Linked DNA regions of Homo sapiens. The protein of the gene in region 3 interacts with the protein of the main gene of each other region in a biochemical or structural test. Each region holds a gene or a part of one and is shown on either strand. Other genes may lie near its edges. The genes, in order: MAG, PDGFB, COL3A1 and THBS1.

Region 1 (5,180 bases), on a different chromosome or scaffold from region 3:
GCTCTGTCCAGGCTGAAGCTGAGGCTAGAGTCGCCTCAAAAGTGGCACCAGAAGAATTGCCCCAAGAGAGCACCCCAAACCACCCCGAAATGAGGCCACTTGGGATTCCAAAGAGAGAGGCACTAAACCACCAGGTGATCATCAGTCCAAAGCATTTGGGAGGGGAACTTGCACAGTGCTACGGCGAGAGAAAGGGAGGGTCTACCCAGACACGTCCGTGAGGGTCAGGGTATGGGTTTACATGAGGGTTTAAGGAATTTGGCCCAGGGCTGGGGCTGGTTTCTTTCATTCTTTCATTTTTGTTGTTGTTGTTGTTTGGGGTTTTTTTGAGACAGCGTCTCATTCTGTAACCTCTCGTACTCCTGACCTCAAGTGATCCACTCACTCTTCGGCCTCGCAAAGTGCTAGGATTACAGCAGTGAGCCACCATGCCCGGCCTCTTTCAGTGTTTTGAGCAACAACCTAAACACCTTTATCAGTGCCTGGGAATGTTCAAGGCCCCAGGCGTGGGTTAGTGAAGCTTGCAGTGAAAACAGGCAGCCGGCGGGGTCGTAGTGAGGTCAAGGCGCTCTCAGTCAGGACAGAGAAAAAAGGAGGGGAAATTGGAGGGCCCTACAGGAAGCTACCGCCCCCATCCTTGGCCACACTGGCCTTGCCTTGAGCCAAGGAGTCTCCGGGGCCGGGCCTCGCGTTGGCTCCGGGCCACCCTCAGACCTGATTTTGCCCCTGCAGTCGCCCCTGTGCTCCTCCTGGAGTCCCACTGCGCGGCAGCCCGAGACACGGTGCAGTGCCTGTGCGTGGTGAAGTCCAACCCGGAGCCGTCCGTGGCCTTTGAGCTGCCATCGCGCAATGTGACCGTGAACGAGAGCGAGCGGGAGTTCGTGTACTCGGAGCGCAGCGGCCTCGTGCTCACCAGCATCCTCACGCTGCGGGGGCAGGCCCAGGCCCCGCCCCGCGTCATCTGCACCGCGAGGAACCTCTATGGCGCCAAGAGCCTGGAGCTGCCCTTCCAGGGAGCCCGTGAGTGGCGTGGACTTGGGGTGGGAGCCACAGGAGGGAGCGGGCACGTCTTAGATCCAAGCTCCCAAGGCTGACCAACAGCCACAGAGCATGGGCTATGCAGATTGACAGAAAGGTCAAATTCTCCCTTTCCGGTTGGAGAGGAGAAGCCGCCCTGAGTTTGCCCCGAGTTTGCTAGGACCTTTGAGGCATGAGCCCCTCCCCAGGGCCCTCTAGCATGAAAGGGATTGCCCTGGCACGAGGAGGCTCCGTGCCAATCAGTCAGTGCAAGGATGCCCCGGCTGTGTGACTACATTGACTGTCATCCCAGCATGTCTCCAAAGTTCTCAGGTGTCGTCACCACCACCCATAGCCCTAAGGGCGCCTGGGTCTTTTCTGTCCTCAGATCGACTGATGTGGGCCAAGATCGGGCCTGTGGGCGCCGTGGTCGCCTTTGCCATCCTGATTGCCATCGTCTGCTACATTACCCAGACACGCAGGAAGTGAGTGCCAGCTGGGGCTGATCTGGGGATGGGAGTCTCCAAAAAGGGGACCTGGTGGGAGATGGAGGCCCAGAGTGGGTGGGGGAAGGCAGCACCATAAGTGTAGAGAAGGCAGATTCTGTTCTGGGAATGTTCAGCTGGACAGAGGAGAGAGGGTTCCTGTTAATTCCAGCCCCTGCTGGTCAGGGGCACACCAGGGCCTGGGCTGAGCCCTTTACACACATCATTTGAGACCTGTTTGCCCACATTCTATTTTGACAGCCTCCCTATCTCTAGGAACTCTCCCCTACACACTCCAGTGTGGTGGGGAAAGCCCAGGTACCCCACTGCAGCCACAGCAGCAGGTCCACTTGACGCCAGAAGCCCCAAAGATTACACACATCTGGGGCAAAAAAAAAATAGGCCTTGGCCGGGCGCGTTGACTCACGCCTGTTATCCCGCACTTTAGGAGGCCAAGGAGGAAGGATTGCTTGAGGCCAGGAATCTGACACCAGCCTGGGCAACATAGCAAGACCACATCTCTAAAAAAAATTTTTTTTTAATTAGCCAGGCATGGTGGCACACACTGTAGTCCCAGCTACTTGGGAGGCTGAGGTGGAACGATTCTTGAGCTCAGGAATTAGAGGCCAGCCTGGGCAACATAGGGAGACCCCATCTACAAAAAAACAAAAAAATTAGCTACTAGTGGCACGTGCCTGTTGTCCCAGCTACTCGGGAGGCTGAGGAGGGAAGATCGCTTGAGCCTGGGAGGTTGAGGCTGTAGTGAGCTATGATTTCACCACTGTACTCCAGCCTAGGTGACAAAGAGAGACCCTGTCTCTAAAAACAAACAAACAGACAGACAGACAGACAGAAAGCCTCTCCAGCCCCAAACCATACCCACCTGGCCCAACTCAGCTGCAGCCGTGTTTCTTTCTTGTGGCACACACACATCAGCTGTCCTGAGAAATAAATTAACCCCTCTGCTCCACATCCTGGTGGCAAGAGGGGCAGAAAGACCCAGAGCCTATGAGGGGAACCTGGAGAATCCAGGTGGGGGTCCTGAAAAACGGCAGAGCTCAGGGGCCAGGTGGCTCGTCCCCAGCCGGGCAGGGGCCACAGAGGTGGGAAGGATGGGCTGTGTGGGTAGGAGAGGCTGGTGGTTCTGAAAGGGCTGCTTGCCACATCTTAGAGATGGGTGGGAGAACTCTGAGGTCCCCTGAGCCAAACTCCTAAAACACGTGGGGGTGCAGAAAGGGAGGGCAGAGAGAGGTCTGACGAGTCCTGCCCTGCAGAAAGAACGTGACAGAGAGCCCCAGCTTCTCGGCAGGGGACAACCCTCCCGTCCTGTTCAGCAGCGACTTCCGCATCTCTGGGGCACCAGAGAAGTACGAGGTAAGGACCAGGCTCCAGGCTGGCCTGGGAACCTGGATGCCAGGGACACTGAAGGCCTGGGAAAGGCCTGTGAGGCCAAGGGGCAGGGGAGTGGGAGCGGCCTCTCACAGGAGGAGAGGAAGGACATTCCAGGGCTGGGTTGGACCTGGAGGCTGGGGAGGAGGTGCCCAGGCCGAAGCTGTGTAGGGGGCGATGGGACGTGGGGCCTAAGGGCCCCCTCCCCTCCCTGCCTGTGTCTGTGACTGCATTTCCTTCTCCAATAGTCCAAAGAGGTTTCTACCCTGGAATCTCACTGAGTGCCCCAGGAGGTAGGTTCCGGGGGCCTCAGTGTGCCCTCCTCTGGGCCCTCCTTGGGCCCTGGGGTTGGCGTGCATGTCCGTGTGTCCCTGTCAGGCGTCAAGGTGGTCTCTGGTGATGTCCGGGCCTGCCCGGCAGTGCTGGCCTTGTCTAGTCTGTCCTGTTGCAGCTCCCTTCTGTCTGTGGCCACCGTCCTGTGTGTCCAAATTCCTGTGGCTAGGGGGTGGAGGGAGGGGTGGGAAGCGTGGGGGGAACCCACATGTCACCTGCAGGACCTCCCAGATTGAGGGCGGACCCATGCAGGACCCATGGGGGGGCACGTACCAAACCAGGTATTTCCAGGAATTTGGAAAGATGGGGTCCTGACTAGGTGGTTTTCACCCAAAAAGGTATTAGGGGTTACATTGTGTGCCCTCAAAACTCCTATGTTGAAAGCTTCCTGGACGGGGGCAGTGGCTCACACCTGTAATCCCACAACTTTGGGAATCTGAGGCGGATGGATCACTTGAGGTCAGGAGTTTGAGACCAGCCTGGCCAACATGGTGAAACCCTGTCTCTACTAAAAATACAAAAAATTAGCCAGGCGTGTTGGCAGGTGCCTGTAATCCCAGCTACTTGGGAGGCTGAGGCAGGAGAATTGCTGGAACCCAGGAAGTGGAGGCTGCAGTGAGCAAAGATCGAGCCATTGCAATCCAGCCTGGGTCTCAAAGAAAAAGAAGAAGAAGAAGCAGCTTCCTGGAGAAACTGAATTTGTAGGCAAATTTCAAGTTCAGCAATGATTAACACTGGCAGAAGCTCCAGAGTGGGACCTGGTGACCGCAGGGCTCGCTGGGCCTGCGGTCCTTGAGAAAGGAGGTTCTCGCAGGGATTTATTTGGGACTGAACTCAGGAGCTCTGAGGGTGCAAACGCTCTGTCCTCTGCATTGGGAAAAGGCAGGGAGCAGGACCCTGCTAATGGGCGGTTTCCCCTCTTAGAGCGAGAGGCGCCTGGGATCTGAGAGGAGGCTGCTGGGCCTTCGGGGTGAGCCCCCAGAGCTGGACCTGAGCTATTCTCACTCGGACCTGGGGAAACGGCCCACCAAGGACAGCTACACGCTGACGGAGGAGCTAGCTGAGTATGCTGAAATCCGGGTCAAGTGAAGGAGCTGGGGGCAGCCTGCGTGGCTGACCCCCCTCAGGACCCTCGCTGGCCCCCACTGGCTGTGGGCTCCCTTCCTCCCAAAAGTATCGGGGGCTGGGGCAGGAGGGGAGTGAGGCAGGTGACAGTGAGGTCCTGGGGGCCTGACCTCCCCCTCCTTCCCAGCTGCCCCTCCCTGCCAGCACCCCCACGCCCTCATTACGGCTCCTCTCTAACCTCCTTTACCCTCATCTGTCTGGAGGGGAGCTCTGTCTGTCCGTGTTATTTATTGCTACTTCCTGCCTGGTCTCCTGCCCCCACACCTGGCCCTGGGGCCTGTACAAAAGGGACATGAAATAAATGCCCCAAAGCCAAATGCCAGTCTAGATCCTGATGCTTTCTGACCCGCCTTTGGGCAGCCTGCCATCCCACCGTCTACAGAACGATGACAGAATTTCTCCTTGCCCTCGGCTGAGCCTGGTATGCAGGCAAGGGCCCAGGGATTTTAGCCTTGAACCCAGGGCCAGTGGCCACTAAGTTGCTCCCACTCTGAGCTGGTAGCTGCGAGCTGGGTCTGGTTTGACTTATGGATGATTTCACATAAAAATCCTCATGCTGGTTTTTGCCGCAGTCAGATCAGCTGACAGCACCAGGCTTGCACTTGTACGTGGACATGACTTGCTGAAAGGGAGGGTCCTGTGCACTGGCCGCAGTCCCCACCACTCCCTATTGTCCCACACCTGGCCGGCTTCCTGCACTGAGATTACCTCCTGGTCCCTGCAGCTTGGAGTGCGAGCCACAGATCTAGGTCTCACCAGCCCGTGTTGGTTTCACCACCATCTCTCACATTCATGCTGCAATTTGCAGCGTCAGCCTTTATACATCACTAC
Region 2 (5,157 bases), on a different chromosome or scaffold from region 3:
TGTCCTGCTGATGGCCCAGGCTCTGGGGAAGAAACTCCCTGGGCCCTTCAGTGGCCCTCCTGGTGTCTTCTGTCTGAGGGGATCTGAAGCCCATTCAAGTCCCTGAACTGCTAGAAAATCTGCGCAATTGCAGAGATGGGAGAGCTGCCTCGTGGGAGCTGGTGTCTGTAAGGTGGGAGGTCAGGTGTCAGATCCCGGTAGGCTGGGAGAGCTCAAAAGGCTCCCAGGAAATGGCTGGCCTTGAGCTCAGCAGACACAGCTGTCCCTGCCAGGGTGGCCACCTGGGAATCCAGGACGGAGAGAAGTGTATAAGAGCTCCCCTTGACTGAGGCTCACAGGCACTGTCGTTTGTGCTGAGTGGTTGGAGGTGTGCACTCTAGAGGCAGATCCCTGAGTTCAAATCCCAGTCTCTCTGCTTCAGTTTCCTCATCTGTAAAGTGTGGGTAACAGCATCTGCCGGTAACAGCACCTGCCGTGAAGGGAAATGAGCATAGAACAGCACCAGGTACATGGTAAACACTAGCTGGGGGGTTTCTGGCCATTTCCATGTATTGTCTCCTAACGCTAGGAGGCCAGGGCTGCTGTCTTCTCTGCTTTAAAGATGTGGAAATCGGCTGGGCGTGGTGGCTCACGCCTGTAATCCCAGCACTTTGGGAGGCCAAGGCAGGTGGATCACTTGAGGTCAGGAGTTCAAGACCAGCCTGGCCAACATGGTGAAACCCCATCTCTACTAAAAATACAAAAATTAACCAGGTGTCATGGCGTATGCCTGTAATCCCAGCACTTTGGGAGGCCAAGGCAGGTGGATCACTTGAGGTCAGGAGTTCAAGACCAGCCTGGCCAACATGGTGAAACCCCATCTCTACTAAAAATACAAAAATTAACCAGGTGTCATGGTGCATGCCTGTAATCCCAGCTACTCGGGAGGCTGAGGCAGGAGAATCACTTGAACCTGCGAGGTGGAGGTTGCAGTGAGCTGAGATCGCGCCACTGCACTCCAACCTGGGCAACAGAGTGAGCCTCCATCTTAAAAACAAATAAATAAAGATGCGGAAATCGAGGCACAGGGCAGTTAAGTGACTTGCTCCAATGTCCACGATACGTGGGAGAGCCCAGATTTGAGCCCAGGTGGGTCAGATCCTCAGCCTGAGTTGTGGCCCATCCCACTCTACCATTTCTCAGAGTGGCAAGGGGCAGGTAGGTGACAGGCACAACTGACCCGAAGGCCCAGCTTCATGGTGGGAGTATGATTCTGGCCCAGAGCCCAGTGGCCTCCACACCACGTGATCGGACGGGGCTGAGAGGTTGGGAGGAAACCTCAATAGTAGGTCAAGCTAAGGAAAATAAGAAAAAAAAGTGAGTCGTAGCAGCTGCCATGTGCTGACCACTTCATACTTGGAGCTTTTTATTATCTTTCCCAGGTCTGGGGGTTGACTGGGCTCAGCTGGGCAGTTCTATTGGCCCCTCTATTGGTTGCAGTCAGCTGGTGGCCTGGGCTGTGGTCATCTGGAGACTCAACGGGGACAGCTGGGCCTCTTTTCCTCTCCCTGTAGTCCAGGGCCTCTGGCTCTACGGGGAGAGCCAGTCCCCACCAGGCCTCTCCATGTGGCCTCTCCAGCAAGGTAGCCAGACCTGTTATGTGGCAGCCCAGGGTCCCCCAAAGCATGAAGGTGAGAACTGCCAGCCCTTCTTAAGACCTCTGCCTGGAACTGGCACGGCACCACGTCTGCCTCTTGTTGGTTAACCAGATCCAACTCCAGGCCAGATTCAAGGGGCAGGGAAATAAACTCTATTGGTCAGTGGGCAATGACAAAGAACTTGAAGCCATATTTAATCTACCCGGCTCTGTGTCCAGTACTGTGCAAAGAGCTTTGCCAGCATACTGTCATTTATTCCTCCCACCAGTTCTATGAGGTGGGCAGTCTTATTACCCCCATTCCACAGATGGAGGCGCCAAGGCTCAGAGAGTTTCAGTCATTGTCCCCAAGGCACATACAGCTGGTGAGCAGTGGAGTTGGGATCCAAACCCAGGACCCTGGTCCAGATTCCCCTCCTGTCCCTTTCCTGAGCCCAGAAGGTCCATGGCAGGCCTTGGTCAGTGGGGAGAGACCTCCCCAATGGTCCACATGCTGACGAGGTCTTTCTTTTTCTTGTGCAGCCAAAACGCCCCAAACTCGGGTGACCATTCGGACGGTGCGAGTCCGCCGGCCCCCCAAGGGCAAGCACCGGAAATTCAAGCACACGCATGACAAGACGGCACTGAAGGAGACCCTTGGAGCCTAGGGGCATCGGCAGGAGAGTGTGTGGGCAGGTGAGGGCCAGGCGGGGCAACTGAGGCCCAGAATCCTGTGTTTTCTTCTCTGTGGTCTGTGGATGGGGTCAGGGGAAAGGATTTTTCCATAGAAAATCCAGCCTCTGAGCCTTGGTCCTCCCTGTCCAGTTATCAGCTGGGGCAGGGTGGGTGGTGGGCTTTGGAGACCCCAGCCCAGCTGTGTCCCAGCATGCCCTAAGAGGATGGGAGGTCTAAATCTCAATCTTCCCAGCCCCTCAATGCCCCCAGCCCTGAGCATTGCTGGAAATCAGGGGTGGCTAGTTGACCCCAGCTCCCTGCCCCTGGCATCGGGGACATATGAACATGGGATGGACCCTCTAGGCTGTCTCTGACCCCTGTGTCTCTCTGCTTGGCCTGCAGGGTTATTTAATATGGTATTTGCTGTATTGCCCCCATGGGGTCCTTGGAGTGATAATATTGTTTCCCTCGTCCGTCTGTCTCGATGCCTGATTCGGACGGCCAATGGTGCTTCCCCCACCCCTCCACGTGTCCGTCCACCCTTCCATCAGCGGGTCTCCTCCCAGCGGCCTCCGGCGTCTTGCCCAGCAGCTCAAGAAGAAAAAGAAGGACTGAACTCCATCGCCATCTTCTTCCCTTAACTCCAAGAACTTGGGATAAGAGTGTGAGAGAGACTGATGGGGTCGCTCTTTGGGGGAAACGGGCTCCTTCCCCTGCACCTGGCCTGGGCCACACCTGAGCGCTGTGGACTGTCCTGAGGAGCCCTGAGGACCTCTCAGCATAGCCTGCCTGATCCCTGAACCCCTGGCCAGCTCTGAGGGGAGGCACCTCCAGGCAGGCCAGGCTGCCTCGGACTCCATGGCTAAGACCACAGACGGGCACACAGACTGGAGAAAACCCCTCCCACGGTGCCCAAACACCAGTCACCTCGTCTCCCTGGTGCCTCTGTGCACAGTGGCTTCTTTTCGTTTTCGTTTTGAAGACGTGGACTCCTCTTGGTGGGTGTGGCCAGCACACCAAGTGGCTGGGTGCCCTCTCAGGTGGGTTAGAGATGGAGTTTGCTGTTGAGGTGGCTGTAGATGGTGACCTGGGTATCCCCTGCCTCCTGCCACCCCTTCCTCCCCACACTCCACTCTGATTCACCTCTTCCTCTGGTTCCTTTCATCTCTCTACCTCCACCCTGCATTTTCCTCTTGTCCTGGCCCTTCAGTCTGCTCCACCAAGGGGCTCTTGAACCCCTTATTAAGGCCCCAGATGATCCCAGTCACTCCTCTCTAGGGCAGAAGACTAGAGGCCAGGGCAGCAAGGGACCTGCTCATCATATTCCAACCCAGCCACGACTGCCATGTAAGGTTGTGCAGGGTGTGTACTGCACAAGGACATTGTATGCAGGGAGCACTGTTCACATCATAGATAAAGCTGATTTGTATATTTATTATGACAATTTCTGGCAGATGTAGGTAAAGAGGAAAAGGATCCTTTTCCTAATTCACACAAAGACTCCTTGTGGACTGGCTGTGCCCCTGATGCAGCCTGTGGCTTGGAGTGGCCAAATAGGAGGGAGACTGTGGTAGGGGCAGGGAGGCAACACTGCTGTCCACATGACCTCCATTTCCCAAAGTCCTCTGCTCCAGCAACTGCCCTTCCAGGTGGGTGTGGGACACCTGGGAGAAGGTCTCCAAGGGAGGGTGCAGCCCTCTTGCCCGCACCCCTCCCTGCTTGCACACTTCCCCATCTTTGATCCTTCTGAGCTCCACCTCTGGTGGCTCCTCCTAGGAAACCAGCTCGTGGGCTGGGAATGGGGGAGAGAAGGGAAAAGATCCCCAAGACCCCCTGGGGTGGGATCTGAGCTCCCACCTCCCTTCCCACCTACTGCACTTTCCCCCTTCCCGCCTTCCAAAACCTGCTTCCTTCAGTTTGTAAAGTCGGTGATTATATTTTTGGGGGCTTTCCTTTTATTTTTTAAATGTAAAATTTATTTATATTCCGTATTTAAAGTTGTAAAAAAAAATAACCACAAAACAAAACCAAATGAATCCGCCGGAGGTCTGTCTGTTGGCATCGTGCGTGACAATTAACCTTTCTGCCTTGGCAGGATGTGCCGACAGCTTGCGGCGTGTTCCTCTCACTCTGGGAGCCTCAGGCGTGATCTCACACACTGGCGTGCACATACACACACACACACATACATGCTCACACATGCGTGCACATACACGCAGGCCTGCAACTTGGGGGAGGCCTCTGTCTGGCGGGAAGAAGAGACACACAGGCTACTCTGTTGGTCTTGGTCCTGGCACAGCTCCTGACACGTGGACTTGTGCGTGTCTCTGGCAGTGACGAGAGATGGGTTTCTGCAGCCTGAGGGTCTCCATAGAGGAAGTGGATCCTCAGCATCGTGGGGTGGGCTGGATGTGGGGAGGGAGTGCCCACTGTGGGGAACACTGAAGGAAGTCCCAGAGGGGATGTGGGATTTAGAAGGAAACAGTGGAAAGCCGGGTCTGCGGTCTGGTCTTGGCTTAGCCCTTAGCCAGCTGTGTGGCCTTGGGCAAGTCACAGACCCACTCTGGCCAGAGAGGATGAGGAAAGGTGCGTGGGCTCCAAGCTCCTGTGTTCTGCGCTTTCTCTTGCTCATGAAGACTTGGGTACCAGCCCATAAAAAAGAGGCTAAATGTATTCTAGGTCCCACCTGCAGCGTGGACTGGGGCTGAGAGGGACCCAGAAGCTAAAGATCTGGCTCATAAGGGCAATCTAAAACTAAAACCATTTTGCCACCTGAAGTAGTGAGCTCCCTGTCACTGGAAGTGTGTAAGCGAAAACTGGGGAACAATGTGGCTGAGGTTAGACTGAATAACATTTGGGCTCCCAGC
Region 3 (7,033 bases):
GCTCCTGGTTTCCCACTTTCACCCTGTATACAAAGGAATGAAAAACATTTTGTTTCAACTTAAGAAATCAATTAAAATGGTGTTATCAGATATCTTTATTTTCAGGTAAAAAACTTATTTTATTTAATCTTCATTGAATTTTAAAATTAAAACTATGCCTGCTATGGGAAAAAATATGGGGGAGCAAGCTTCTTGCATTTTCTAACTTGCTCAGTGACTCTGGATGGCAAAGGGCTGAATAGTTACATTGATTATCTAATTCAGAATACTGTACATTGTAATCTGAGATGAATACATAAACATGATTAGTATAGGGAAAAACAATAATGAGCCATCATGAAACTAGAGGTGTATGGTGATCCTTAAAATTAGGTTATTTGTCTCTATCTGAAGAATATACACTTACCAGAAATATCATATCAATTGAACACACTTAAATATGAAATATTAATTTTATGACAATATTACATAACATTTTGTTGAAAGAAGTACTTAAAGTGCCATAATACGAGCCCTAATAAAAATGCAATTTTATTATCCTGTTTACCAAACGAATGTTTTAGATGCTAAGCACTAGAATGTTATAGGAATATAATACTAGTGAAAGAGAGTCAGGAGTGCAAGATGACTTGAATGGATGGATAACTAGCATTAATGAAAGACTTTCCAAGATCTATAAGCTAACACTATTTCCCCCTTCAAAACTGACAGTCAACAAATTGAAGAATATTCACAAGTTTCCTAAAAGAGGTGTTTGAGATGGCAATATTGTTTTCATCATATTAATTTATTTGTGTTTATATTCAAGGTTTGTCTATGATATGCCCTGTTTTGTGTTCTGGAGCCATTTATTAAAATTTATGCTTTTAAAAATCTAAAAATAAAAAAAAATTATCTCCTGGCTAATTTACTCCAGTGACAGAAAAACTTTTCATCCTTGATATGGTTAAGTGATCTCTGAAGGCTACCAAAGGAAGGAAGAGTGTAGTGGAAAATGACTATACTCACCTTGACACCCTGAGGGCCAGGGCTTCCCCTAGGACCTGGCATGCCTGGTGGTCCTGCAAGACCCCGTGCTCCAGTGATCCCAGCAATCCCAAGTGGGCCTGGAGCTCCCTAATACAGATAATGAAGACTTAGCTCATCTTTATGTGACAGTGTTTTTCTCTAATCGATTTGTGATAAAAATCAAAATAGTAGAATCAATTTAAAAAAATGAAGTTACTTACTGGTGGGCCCTGGGCACCAGGCGATCCCTTCTCTCCTGGTTGGCCAGCATCACCTTTTGGTCCAGACACTCCAGGGCTGCCAGGAGCACCAGTGTTACCCGCAGGACCTGGGGGCCCATCCTTGCCTGGAGAACCGCTGGGACCTGGGGGTCCTGGGTTACCCTACAAATAATTGTTTGAAATTTGAATATTTATAATAAAAAGTGCATTTTTTCTTTCTTTTTTTACTTACTTCAAATAATTTTATTTGAGACTTACTAGAGAAATAAGTAGCAATGTGTAAGTTTCTCATCCTATACATACATGAATGCTCTTTCTGAAGTGTATGATGAGAAAAGACTTTAACAATTACTTACATTACTACCAGGAGGACCAGGAAGACCACGAGCACCAGGGAAGCCAGCAGCACCCTGTGAAATGGTAATATATTTTTGAATTTCAAAAGTAGAACAAATAACTGTACAACAAACAAAAAGTATAATGTGTGGCATGATCTGCATTGTACCTGAAAGTCATTTATGGTTTGTGTTTCCCCTTGGAATTTACATATAACTCATGTATGAATGAGCGATTACAATTTTTACATTCTCTTTATGGAACTAGTGTCTCAAATGCAGCTTTTATACAGGTTGATATCAATTAATGCTTTTCAATAATAGTTAAGAGGATCAATACTTACAGGTCCACCAGGACTGCCACGTTCACCTTTGACACCTTGGGGACCAGGAGGACCCTATATGAAATGGAAGGAAATTATGTAAGAATAGCACCAAAATCAAAATTTGGGAAAAGCATTAAGCCTTTGAAAACCAGGAACTCTATGAAGAGGTTAAAATAACTTTTAGATTGCTGGTGCTGAGATTCATACTTGGACTATATTCATATAAAGATTATATTCTTGACACTATGACATGCTATCTCAGTATAAAATATTAAATTACTGATAAACCTCCATGTTTTTCCATTAGAACACTTAGGACTTACAGAGGGGGGAGAGGGAGAGAGAGAGGGAGAGATAGACAGATAATCAATAGATAGATAGATGATAGATAGATAGACAGAGAAAGAGGAAGGAACTTACAGCAGGTCCAGAACCTCCAGGGGGTCCTGCAACTCCAGGAGGGCCTCCTTCACCTTTCTCACCCGGAGCCCCTCTTTCTCCTTTACCACCAGGTTCACCATTCTGTCCCTACATGCAACAACAACAGCAATCTCTCAGCTGACACTCTTTATGATACAATTGGCTTATTATTATTTCTCTTCAGAATATAGAATTCTTCAGATGGAAGGAGTTGAAATAAAATTTAAAAACAAGGCTTTCTGAAGACATGACAAAATGAAGCCAATCAAAATATTTTCATGATCAAAGAACATGACCAAGAAAGCATAAACTGTGCATTATTTGCCATTAGGGAGGGAGGAAGTGTCTCTAAGGATTAAACATTTGAAAATCAGCACCAGTAAATTTTTTTGAGAAAGACCGGATTTAAGAGAAAATTTTAATTAGTACCATCTTATAATGGAAGAATTTACAAAAATTCAGAGTGCTTTTAAATCCATGATACTGCTTTAGTTCATTACCCAGTCATAAAAGCAGGACAGGTGTTTTTATTTCCATCTTTCAAAGAGCGACAATAGGGGTAAAGTAAAACAAAATAGGGGTACAATAATCCTATAGGGAATGAGCAGCTAAAATGAGACTAGAAACCAAACTTGACTATACTTTTGTAATTTTTCAGCAAGATAGAGATCCTGGGCTATGGGACATGTATGTATAAATATTCACACTTACAGGAGCACCAGGGAAACCAGCAGGTCCTGGAGGGCCAGTTTCACCTCTCTCACCCTGAAGAGAAAAATATCCTCCTTAGTCACAGTGAAGTGTGCGTCATCTCCTTTAGGCAGGAAATGTCATCTTATCATCTTATCTTTTCTTTCCTTTAAGCAGGAAATGTGCAGAGTAGCCAATAAACTTCTGAAGACTTTGCCACTTCTCAATAAAATTAGGAGTGGAAAATACCAGAACCATTGATTCCTTCTGCCTCCTACTGTGATATTATTTGCAAGAAAAATAGTTTGAGAATTTTAAAGTATTTAACACATTTATATATATAGATATTTATGTATTTCAATATATGGTAGAAGCTTAACTGAAAAATTAACTGATTTATTTTTAAAAACCATTTACTAAATATCTTTCCAGAGTCTTAAATCCTGAAGGTCAAGACTTTTAAATCTAGAAGGAGTCTCAGGCAAAGATTCTATAGGCTTAAGAAATACCTAATTACAAACATGTACTACTTGTGCAATTCATGTATTTTTTCCAAAGTTATTTAGGAAAGAAATCCTGATTTAAAATGGTCTCCTGTGAATGTTAGATTTAAGAAATTTAACATTCCCTTGCATGCTATATGGTTCCTTATATGGTTTTTGAAGATAATATCTCCAAATTGAGGCTCAGGGAACTGAGGGCAAAACTGCCAAAAAGGGAAGCATAAGTAGCTACTGTCTGTATGGGGTTAAAAAGTATGTTGAGAATGTCTTTAACACTTACAGGGCTACCACGAGGTCCAGCTATACCTGGAAGTCCGGGGGCACCACCTTCACCCTGGAAAAAGAGAAGCCATGTCACTGTCTTGCATCCAAAAGAGAGAGACATTTTCTTTTTATATCCAGGTAGTATTAAGGGTTACCTTATCTCCAGGCTGGCCAGCTGGGCCAGGAGGACCAATAGGACCAGTAGGACCCTAGAGGAAATAAAAATATTTTTTAATTTTGAAGATACAAATATCGTTTTTTGCATTAATCAAACAGAAAGTATATAGACATAGATACCTAATAAACTAGATAACATACTTTTTAAAAATTTTTATGGCTTGAATGCTATGCTTTTCTCTCAATGTGTAAATACTGCAGAGCTCAGTAAACACAAGCCTCTTTGGGGATAACTCTGGGAGAAAATAGGATTCAGCAATAGTTTATTGATTCATTTATCTTTATCTCCATTGTAGAAGATAAATAGGATGTCATGTAAGATCTTACAGTAATGTCTTTTTAAATTAAAGTACATTTCTTTATTCAATTGCTTGATAATTTAAATGTTTTCTCAAAGTCTCATTGTACATATTAAATTTTTCAACTTGAAATTTTCAAATAGTAGTTTTACTTATATTACAAAACTGAAGTATTGAGCACTCTTTTTACCTGAATGACGGCTTATCTACTTAGTCTGTCAAAAGCGAAGCATTTATGAATTTCTTTAAGGCAACTATTATATAAATTTATTAAAAGACTTAATTATAATCATATTTAGGAGATGTTTTTTGTTTTGTTTTTGACTTTTAGTTTGAATTATAGATTCATAGGATGCTGCAAAGGAATATACAGGGAAATTCTGTGCACTTTTCTCCCAGCGTCCCCTAATGTTAACATCTTACACAACTATAATATAATATCAAAACTAGGAAATTGACATTGATACCATCCATAGAGCATGTTCAGATTTCACCAGTGATACACACACTCATTTATGTGTGTGTATATGTAGCTCTATAGAATTTTATCCCATGTGTAGATGTGCCTGACTACCACCTCAATCAAGATACTCAAATGTGCAATCACCATAAGACTCCCTTGTGTCATGTCTCCATAGCCACATCCATCTCTCTCTTTCTCATTCTTAACTGCTAGCAACCACTAATCTGTTCTACATCTCTACAAGGAAGTTATTTTGCAAATATTGTAGGAATGGAATCATGCAGTATGTATCCCTTGGTGACTGAATTTTCTTCACTGAGTATGTTGTCCTTGAGGTTTGTATAATTTGCTGTGTGTACAGCATCAATTGTTCATTCCTTTTTGTTGCTAAATACTATACAATTTTTAAATATTAAGTCTATTAATGAGGAGTACTTACTATATTGAATTTTGATGACTTTTAGTTTCTTAATGAGCAGCATTGATTATCCTAAATTTCAGTGATTATCTCAGATTTTAGTGACTCACAAATGCTAGTTTGTGACCTTTATCGTACTCTTGAGGCTTTTTCATTCTTTAGTCACTGTAGATCTATCAAGTAGCCATAGATATAGACCACAAATTTCATTATAAATCAAGTCATTCGGGTCTTTAGGTGGTAAAATATCTAATTTCTCTTGAGTAGTTTTTGGAAAAAATTAAAGTTGAAGTGCAGGACTGTCCCATATGACATATAGATAAGGCCTGCTTCTCCTCACTGGGAATACTCACCCTTGGGCCATCTTTCCCTGGGACACCATCAGCACCTGGACCGCCTGGTTCACCCTGTCAAATAAAAGCCAATGTCATCAGATTCAAAGTATCTTCAGTGAAAATCAGCCAAGAAGAGGAGTAACTCTCAGGATTTGTAGGGATATATATTGGGTGTTCTAATTCATTGTTGCTTTAGGAATCCATCTTAAATTTCACTTACTATAAAATGATAACATTAATTTTGAAAATACAGTCGATTACTTTCCAGGAGTGTTGCTTTTTTTAAAACCTACAATGACTGATTTATTGAACAATTAAGAGAAAACAAGTCAACACCTTGTCACCCTTTGGACCAGGACTTCCAAGACCTCCTCTTTCTCCAGGCATTCCTTGCAGACCAGGAGTACCAGCAGCACCAGGTGGCCCAGGAGGACCAGCAGCACCCTGAAAATAAGTGAGAAATAATAAATGATCAGAAGGAAATCAAATGCATTTTTTAAACCTAGGTGAATGGAATGCTGTGGAGTTACCTTTCCTCCTTCGGGACCAGGGGGACCAGCTCCACCTCTAAGTCCTGGGGCCCCTGCCAATCCAGGAGGTCCACGTTCACCAGGGGCACCAGCATCACCCTGTGACAAAAATATGTAAATAACCATATTAGACAACCCAAAGCTAAAAACAAAGCACCTTAACTTGCATCATTTTGAATCAGGCCACTAGGTTATTATATTGTGAACAATCTAGAAATTTGTATACTTAAAAATAGTTGAACAGCTGGGTGGGAACTAGAAGCTTAAAAGAGTGTCTAAAATAAAACTTGGATACTTAGTCTGGTTAAGTGTGAGCTGTCATTGAAATACTTATTATTTTATTCACAAGAGCAACATTTTAAAGTTCTTTTTACCAAAACAGTTTTCCTACATAGAATCAACATATTGGCAATATTTTTCCGTTTGAAATTTTAAGCCCGTATTTGATTCTGTAGTGATTATGAATGTCAGAGAATTGGACCTTCCAGATTAAAGCAAATTTAATGTATTGAAAGTGTCTTGAGTTTCTCTAAGTGTACTTACCAAACATTTGCAATGATGCTCTTTTAAAGAAAGAGTATTTTGGCTTGATATACTAAAAATATACTACTAATCAATTGCTCTATAACCTGCTGAAGAAGGTAGAGAATAAATTGAAATACTACCTTGCCTCCTGGAGCTCCAGGTGCACCGGCATCACCCTTTGGACCCTGGGAGATTGGCATTATATGATTAGGCCCATATCAGAGTGCATTTTATGTAAATATAAGCAAATATGTAAATATAAGCAAATATGTAAATATAAGCAAAATACACATTTGTCATGTTGGCATACTGTATAATTTTTCAAATCTTGAAACTATGAACTCTCTATTTTATGGTAAAATTCAAACTCTATATAATAGTTATCTTTTAAATAATTTGTCTTTGTTTTGATAATATTTCAAAACTAAATGTTAAATCTCAAATATCATGGCATAAGAAAATTAAGAAGTTAATAGTTGACAAACAAACAGTGTGTATTCTTTTTGTTTCTGAGTTTTG
Region 4 (7,936 bases), on a different chromosome or scaffold from region 3:
ATGCCGCAGATGGCTTGCAAGTCCTTTGTCTTGTGGCCAATGTAGTTAGTGCGGATGGCAGGGCTGGAACCATTCACCACGTTGTTGTCAAGGGTGAGGAGGACACTGGTAGCTGGCAAGAAACAAAATGAAAACTTCAAATAGATACTCTTACCAACCAGCCTCTTGAGTTCTTAGTGGTAGAAGACGTTTCATTTGGTGTGAAGGATGCAGGTAGAGGGGTTGCGTGTATGCGCACGTGTGTATACGTGTGTGTGTATAATACCCCTTGGAGTCACTTCTGTATGCCTCTTGATGATCTCACTGGGGGTAATTTATGTATAACCACTATTGCTAAATTCCTCAGTTTGTTTTTGGTGGAATTCCCCCTGATTCCCTATGTGCCCTAAAAATAGAGGGGTACTCACAGCTGGAGCAGCCTTTGTTCCTGAGGATGTCTTCTGGTGTGGTTCCAAAGACAAACCTCACATTCTGCAGCACCCCCTGTGGGCAGAGGACACACATTACTTGTAGAATGCAGAGCGGGGTGGGGATGGGGTTGGGGGAGACTGTCTGTATGCTAGGAAAAGCATACAATAGATGTTCTAAAAGCTTCAAAGAGCTGTCTTAAGATCACTATGTCAAAATAACACAGCAACATTAATCGCCAAACAACTTCAAAATCTTAATTGTGACTTCTGCCAAGTCTTGAGTATTTTACAAAGAATTCAGTTATCAGCCTACTTGGGTACACAGGAAATGGAATCTGATCCTAAGCCTAGAGGATATAATGACACTTTCCAGTGTCAAAGAGTTAAATGTGGGAGTTCAAAGCCACCGTTGCAAAGATCTAGAAGTTAAGGCACAGATGAAGCTGTAACAGCAACAACTAACTGCTATTTTAACCTTTTATGTGAGACCAGCTGCATCCCCATGAGGAATCCAATAGCAAAGTGGTACTGATTCTGCCCATAGAAAGTATCCATTTCAAACAAGATTAAAATTGGGGGAATGCATTTGAAATAAGCTCTTTTCTTAAGAGCCTAAGGAGTATCTAAGGCTTGAACAGGCTGACTGCTAAAGGAAAACCATTTCTTGTTTCCTTGAGTAGTTTTCAAAGTGTGCTTCCCAGACCACCGGCATCAGCATCACCTGGTACTTGTTAGAGTTGCAGTTTTACAGAATCCCAGACTCTGGGGCTGGGGTGCAGCAGGGTGAGCTTTCACAAGCCCTCCAGGTGATGCTCATGCTGCCTAAAATCTGAGAACTGCTGCGTTAGTTTACAGACAGGATTTCCTGTAGCCCTCCTGGCAGGTCACCTGTCTAGCAGATGATCCCACGGAGCAGGGCTCAGAGAAGAAGCCTCACCTGGAAATTGTCATTGACGCCCCCCTTTGCGATGCGGAGTCTGGCGATGCTGGCCAGGTCTCTGGTGAAGACGCTTTGGATGGGGACGTCCAACTCAGCATTCTCCATCTTTTCACAGTCGATGTACAGCTGGGCCCTGTCTTCCTGCACAAACAGGGTGATGCTCTTCCACTGGCCGGTTGCCAGGAGAGCTTCTTCCACAGACACCACGTGCTGCTTTCCTTGGACGGTCAGGCTGAGGTCCAGGGTGCCCGCCTTGCCATTGGACACCACGCTGAAGACCTGGCCAGAGTGGTCTTTCCGCTCCAGGGCCAGCAGCGTGCCCCGGGTCTTCTTCATCTGCCTCAGGGATGCCAGAAGGAGGAAACCCTTTTCTGCCCGCACAGCATCCACCAGGTCTTGGAACTTGTCATCAGGCACAGGGGGGATCAGGTTGGCATCCTCGATGCGGAAAGCTGGGCTGGAAGGGTCGGGGCCCTTCACCAGTCGGCGCCCAGACCCCTTGCGGGCGGCCCCGGTGAGTTCAAAGATGTCAAACACGCTGTTGTCTCCGCCAGACTCTGTTAGACAGGAGAGAACACAAAGTGAGCTTTCTAGGCTGGGACCAGCAGTAGGGGGCTGAGTCCTTAGGGGTGGAGACAAAGGGTTGGGGTGAAAACTCCTGGCAACCACTGAAAGAGGTGAATAAATACCAGGATCAGAGTGAAGCTGCGTCCTGATGTCCAGTCAGGCTCAAGAGGGAGAGGACAGCACGTGAGGGGGCACACCTGGGATAGCCAGCACCTCTTCCTTGTCCCTCCTTCCCCTAAAGGTGCCACACAAACTCACCTGGAATGCGGTTGGTGCCACACACATGCATCAGGAACAGGACGCCTAGTCCCCAGGCCAGCCCCATGGTGGAGCTGTTGGTGCCCAGCAGGGATCCTGTAGCAGGAAGCACAAGAGCCGAGGGTCAGAGATCAGCTAGGCAGGGAGGGACGGTGCGCAGAAACGGGGCTGGGCATGGGGACAGGGCCGGGACCATCCCTCTTTGACCCCGCGTTTGCTGAAATGAAGGACAACAGGATTACTTTCCAGAGAGCATGAGAGAGAGAGAGAGAGAGAGAGAGAGAGGTGGAGGAAAGAGATGCTGGTTTTAAAGTGTGGGGGGCGCAAGACCAACAATTTGGGGGCTTTTGGGAAGTCGAAGGTGAGCAAGATCAGGAACTGTAGTTTGGGGTTGCAGGGAGGGCAGGGGAAGTACAGACTCTTCCCTGGAGTGCTGATACAAAGGCTTAAGGAGGACTTCAGAGAGTAAGGAAATCTTGGGGTGTCCTGATGAGTTGGTTTGTGAACCTCAAGGCTGGAGAGGATGGCTCTGGAGCCTTGCCCTGAAGAGTCCTCCAGCGGCTGAGAGGAGCGGGCTGGGGTAGGCGAGCGGGGAGAGTGTAGGTTCCGGGGTCCACCAGAGGGACTGAAGCCTCAGCGCTCCAGGTGGATGTCCCGGGCAGCTTTGGTCCTCGGCGGCCGCCGGGGGCGACTTACCTGTGTGTACCGGAGCGCGGCGGCCGGGAGCGGTGGCGAGGGCGGCGAGGGCTGGAGGGGCGCGGGGAATGCCTGTGCGTCCGGAGTAGAGGTTGCTCCTGGAGAGCGACAGGAGCCCTGAACTCGCAGGCCAGCTCGGGCGCAGCGGCTGGCAAGGCGGAGGAGCCGCGCGCTTTTAAAGGGGCGCTCGCATTCCTGGGGATTCCTCCGGCCAATGGGCGGCGGCCGGGCAGGAAGCGGGAGGTGGGGGCCAGTCTGGGCTCCTCTCTCCGCCCCCCGCTGCCTGGCGCGCAACTTTCCAGCTAGAAAGTGAAGGGGGCGGGGGTCGGGGCTTGGGAGCACTAGAACTTCTCAGAAAAGTCGGTGCCCGCCCACGCAGCCTTGGCGCGCACGGGCTCGGCGCTCGTACTCTTGCGCCACGCGGGCTCGGGGTGATCAGCAAGCATCCCGAAAAGGGACGGGGCTGGGGAGACCACCTAGGAGGGCCCGCGGGGTGGCGCAGGGGCTTTCGGGCGAGCTGATCTCCCGGAATGCCTGGTTGATGGCGAGAGGTGGATACTAGAGACTGGGCCCGTTTTGTAAAAAGAAAAATGGGCCGACGGGGCGCAGGGGACACCAAGAGAGCCATTCGTTAAAGTACCTGCCCCTCGGGCCCTCGCTGACTCTCCTCCACCGTCCCCGTGGGGTGAGGACACGCGTCCCCCGAGCGCCTGTCCTGAGCTGGCCCCACGCCCGCCCCGGAGGGAGGTGAGCGCGGCGTCGGCGGGGCCGGCAGGTTGGTGCGCCGCGTTCGCCTTCGCTGCCTTCGGGCCCTTTCCTGCCGCGGCTGCCAGGGGGCCCACAGAGACGCCTCTCCCGCTGCCGCGGCGCTCCCTCGGCCGGCCGCTTGGGGGCGGTGTGCGTATTCTCATCAAGGGGCCCGGGGAGGACAGCTGCTTTCTACTCGAATTTTAAGGAAACTTACTCGTATCCAGTTTCCACAAGCCAAATTGAAATTGTGTCTTGAAAAACAGTTTTTGTGCCCACTCGTGCTTCTTAACGTGACTCCTGTTTGGAGAATTTGCAGAACCATCTGGCTCCAGAGTCTTCAGCTATTTACAGAGCAGACCCATAGAGTAATAAATTACTCTCTGCCTATTATTGTATTTCCCTTTTTCCTCCCTAAACGTTCTTTTCATTTTTCGGCTCCTGAACCCGAGGTGTGGGTTACATTTCTGTGGGTGCACACATTGCCATGAGTGCCGCTGCCTAGTGCTTCTGTCATTGAAGTCTGGTCTCCAAGCCACTGTCCCAAGCCAGCATGACTCTAGCTTCCTGGAATTCCATTCATCTCTTCGGGATGGGACGTCAGCCGCCTCGCTCCCTCTGCTGTGATCCAGCGCTATCGGGCTCGCTCCGAGGCCAGGGCATAGGTAGAAGCTTGACCAAATAAGGATCTCAGCACGGGCAGGGGGAAACCCCTGGGGTTCACCTCCCATCTTAGCACTTAAACCTGGCAGGACTCCCGACTGCTGCAAACAGCCAAGTGTTTACATTCATCAAACAGCAGTTTCGCTTTTCTTGCGTGGGAGTGTTGTATGACAAGATGGTGTGTGTGTGTGTGTGTGTGTGTGTGTATTACGGAAAGAGTGTTTTCTAGTTACTCAATATGTATATAAAATGCCTCTAAAAGATGACCGGTATGTTCCTAAGGCACATGTTTGTTGGATTTCAGATGTTGGGAGGCAGAAAGAAAAGTTTCTACTGGTTGATGAATAAAATCAGATTCTTGTCCCGCAAATCATAGGTAATGATTCATCCAAGCAGATCTGAAGATTCTGGAATCGGCACCCATCCATCTCCCTCCCCTTCCTTCTCCTTCTACAGCATTCATCTTGCTCTTCGAAAAGTAATTGGGTTTTTTTTTTCTTCTTTCCACTTGCTCCATGATACTGGACAGTCAGAAATAGTTCTTGGAGGGATGGGCCGCTCATGGCTCTGGGCTCCTCTGGCCCACTGGATCATTGTGTACAAATCAGATGGGGGCTTGAGGGCTGCAAGAGGCCCACAAAAGCAGAATGCATCTTGTATGAAAAGATTATCTCCCCTAGGCTTAGCTGTGCAGACAGAGTAGAAACCAGCACTCACTGCCCCTTCAGGATTCATGCTGCCATGGCTGAGGGATTGTAGGAATGCCTCTGCAGATTTCTTGGAACTTGGCTTCTTTCAACAAAACAAGGACAACAGTTTCCAAACTTCATCATGCTTTACCAATAAGAAGGTGACCTATACGGTGGCAGGAAAGAGCTTTCTTATTAGAGAAAGCTGACAGGTATAGGAGCTGCTTATCTCAAACACAAAGCCCTTCCTCTTATCATGATACTTCAGTTGTTCTGGGTGGAAAGGAAAGGTCATAGAAGAGGGAGTGTCTGCGCCCCTTAACAGGAATTCACCCACATTCTTGCCAGCCAACATGTGCTGCAAATATTCCCCAAACCTCATATACCTCTGTGCAGCTTTGAGAGAAGCAGGGATGGGAAAAGGGAAAAGAAAACCTATCCCCTTTAATGTGAGGGCAATAGTCCATTTTGAGTGTGTCTCTACAACCTGGAAGCACTGTGATTTTAAGGCAATCAATTAACATGGGCCGAAGTGATGGACCTTTCAGGGAGCTGGTCCAGTTCTCTTTTTTGCCAAGTTGTCATCCTTGAGGATTAGTTACTGAAAATTGTAAGGCATATGGCATTTCACCGTAGGATTTCCTTTTTCTAAGTTTCTCTAATTGGAGGTGGGATTGACCTAAATACATTGGCAGTAAGTGTGAGGAAAGGGCTGTCAGTTACAGCTAGTTTTAAAATTGCGTGTAATTAAGGAGAGCAACATAATTGAGAAAAAATATTTTGTTTATTTAGCATAGAACAGCAAGGTGGGCTGTGATTTTGTGTAGGAATTTTTTAAGTGTTGCAAATTTTCAGTAGTGGAACATTTCTTACAAGTGTGAAGCAATGAAAAATCATTGTATTCTAGAATAGTCTAAAATCATAGCATCTTCAAATTGAAGACATCATAAATTCATTTCTCTCTGAATATGTTCCCTAGATCATAATTCTAAGTTGCTTTACTTTAACTGCATCAGAGGTCAGAGCCAGGAGGAAGTTACCAACAGATTTTTCTTGTCCTTCAATCAAACACCAATTCAAGCTCTCCCTTCTCCATGAGGTGTTTTCCATCTGTTTTATGCTGTGTGTTTTAAAGCACACATTATCTCTATCATAAAACTTATCACCTAACACTCTTTATTATTTAGTTTTTAAAAATTAGCTTTTATTTTTTCACATGTAAAGACCAGAATTTTTTTTTGGTGGGGGGTGGGATGGAGTCTTGCTCTGTCTCCCAGGCTGGAGTGCAGTGGTACAATCTCAGCTCACTGCAACTTTTGCCTCCCAGATTCAAGCGATTTTCCTGCCTCAGCCTCCTGAGTAGCTGGGATTCCAGGCGTGTGCCACTACATCCAACTAATTTTTGTATTTTTTAGTAGAGTTGGGGTTTCGCCATGTTGGCCAGGCTGGTCTCAAACTCATCACCTCAGGTGATCCACCCTCCTTGGCTTCCCAAATTGCTGAGATTACAGGCGTGAGCCACTGTGCCCAGGCAAGGACCAGACTTGAAGTGCCCAAAGCCCTGGGCTTGGGAAGAGAGAGTTCTTATGTTTAAATTTCCAAATCTCTTTGTGTACAAGTCAATTATGGCACAGAAGGACGGGACTACTCACCATTTTCCTACCAGCTCTACCATTTTACTCAGTTATCCCTTAGCTCTTGGTGGGTAAATGTGGTGAGTGACTCACAAACATTGTACTCCTCTTCAAAGAACTGAAGCAATACTTTTATGGAATTGATCTCAGTGGGCAGGGGTAGGCATATTGGTTAAGGGTAAACACCTCCTCCCCTTTTTCCCACTTCCCTGCCAGTGACTGATTTAGGAATTGGCATGTGATTCAAATCTGACGAGGTTTGCTGAAGGCTTCCGGGAAAAGTCCTTTGTTGCTTTTAAGGAAGAGCCATGTGAAATCAGGCTTTCTCCATCTCTTTTGGATACCAACAAGAATGCCGATAAGTGCTGTTTGGTGCTATTGGCCACTGGGGAGCCAAGTTTAGTGTGAAACCAGTGTTGGAGGAGGAAGAACAAAAGCATAGAAAGAACTCGTATGTCAGGTCACATTTTTGAGCTGCTAAATCTCTCAACTCTTAAGGGAATCCTACTTCTAGATTTCTTTGGTTATGTGCTTATTATTTAAGCCAAGTTGTTGTTTTCTATTTCTTAGAACCGTAGACATCATAACGGCCCCTTTCCCTGTGTTTGGATGGCCTTTTCACTCATGCTTTGATTAAACCTCTTCTTATTCCTTTAGAATAAGAGAAGTAAGGATAGGTCATAGGATAAACACATTGTAAAGGCTCTTCACCTATATTACTAAGATGCTTTCCAGAAAATTTGCACCATTTACTGTCCTGCCCATGGCATGAGGCAGCCCTTCCCCCTATCTCTTTGCCTGCAGCCACCCTAGTTCCACACACTCTTAACTGCAGGCTGGTAAGGGTGAGCGTTATTTCCGATTTTATTGTGTCTTTGTATCCCTCTTTTGGGTAACTTTGAGATGTAGTCCAGCAGGTTCATAAAGAAAAGAATAACCAGGATGGATGGATTCCAGTGAAGGGGCAGGGGCATTGACCTGCTAGGAAACCAAGGGTATGGAGGAAAGAAGATGGGAAAAGGAGATGGTGAGGTCTCACACTGGGCCGAAAGATGGAAATGGGGAAGATTAGCAAGGTAGGAAGGTGAGGACATGGAGAACAGGCTCTTAACATGTAATAATGATAAATCCCCAAAAGCCGTCTTTGGCAAAAGTCTTTTTCATACTCTGGACGATAGGTGCAGGCTACTGCAGTGTTGCTGATGGGGAGGACTGTATTTGGGAGCAGCCTCTCTGGCTCCACCAATGTTTATCCTTTATCATCTTAGTAAAAAATGCCACCTTATGGGGCATCCTAAATATGGTCTGGTTTGGGTTTCAGCGTGGAAGCTT

What was found.
Region 1: the proteins of COL3A1 (region 3) and MAG form a complex in vitro, tested with the Homo sapiens proteins (one study listed by BioGRID).
Region 2: the proteins of COL3A1 (region 3) and PDGFB form a complex in vitro, tested with the Homo sapiens proteins (one study listed by BioGRID).
Region 4: the proteins of COL3A1 (region 3) and THBS1 form a complex in vitro, tested with the Homo sapiens proteins (one study listed by BioGRID).

What each region holds. Positions count from the first base shown.
Region 1 is NC_000019.10:35,309,142-35,314,321, forward strand, and holds the end of MAG (myelin-associated glycoprotein isoform a precursor), read left to right. Parts: intron 1-732; coding exon 733-1,020; intron 1,021-1,405; coding exon 1,406-1,502; intron 1,503-2,776; coding exon 2,777-2,876; intron 2,877-3,139; coding exon of another isoform or gene 3,140-3,172; exon of another isoform or gene 3,173-3,184; intron 3,185-4,148; coding exon 4,149-4,313; 3' UTR 4,314-4,666; downstream 4,667-5,180. UniProt on the Homo sapiens protein: Adhesion molecule that mediates interactions between myelinating cells and neurons by binding to neuronal sialic acid-containing gangliosides and to the glycoproteins RTN4R and RTN4RL2.
Region 2 is NC_000022.11:39,222,849-39,228,005, reverse strand, and holds the end of PDGFB (platelet-derived growth factor subunit B isoform 1 preproprotein), read left to right. Parts: intron 1-2,158; coding exon 2,159-2,283; 3' UTR 2,284-2,311; intron 2,312-2,692; 3' UTR 2,693-4,647; downstream 4,648-5,157. UniProt on the Homo sapiens protein: Growth factor that plays an essential role in the regulation of embryonic development, cell proliferation, cell migration, survival and chemotaxis. Potent mitogen for cells of mesenchymal origin.
Region 3 is NC_000002.12:188,998,340-189,005,372, reverse strand, and holds part of COL3A1 (collagen alpha-1(III) chain preproprotein), read right to left. Parts: intron 6,700-7,033; coding exon 6,655-6,699; intron 6,089-6,654; coding exon 5,990-6,088; intron 5,904-5,989; coding exon 5,796-5,903; intron 5,532-5,795; coding exon 5,478-5,531; intron 3,977-5,477; coding exon 3,923-3,976; intron 3,838-3,922; coding exon 3,784-3,837; intron 3,076-3,783; coding exon 3,022-3,075; intron 2,419-3,021; coding exon 2,311-2,418; intron 1,963-2,310; coding exon 1,909-1,962; intron 1,640-1,908; coding exon 1,586-1,639; intron 1,392-1,585; coding exon 1,230-1,391; intron 1,117-1,229; coding exon 1,009-1,116; intron 24-1,008; coding exon 1-23. UniProt on the Homo sapiens protein: Collagen type III occurs in most soft connective tissues along with type I collagen. Involved in regulation of cortical development.
Region 4 is NC_000015.10:39,576,164-39,584,099, reverse strand, and holds the start of THBS1 (thrombospondin-1 precursor), read right to left. Parts: upstream 3,022-7,936; 5' UTR 2,872-3,021; intron 2,393-2,871; exon of another isoform or gene 2,272-2,392; 5' UTR 2,243-2,271; coding exon 2,176-2,242; intron 1,908-2,175; coding exon 1,348-1,907; intron 484-1,347; coding exon 408-483; intron 113-407; coding exon 1-112. Other genes in the region: uncharacterized protein LOC124903470, read right to left, coding at 3,348-3,782. UniProt on the Homo sapiens protein: Adhesive glycoprotein that mediates cell-to-cell and cell-to-matrix interactions.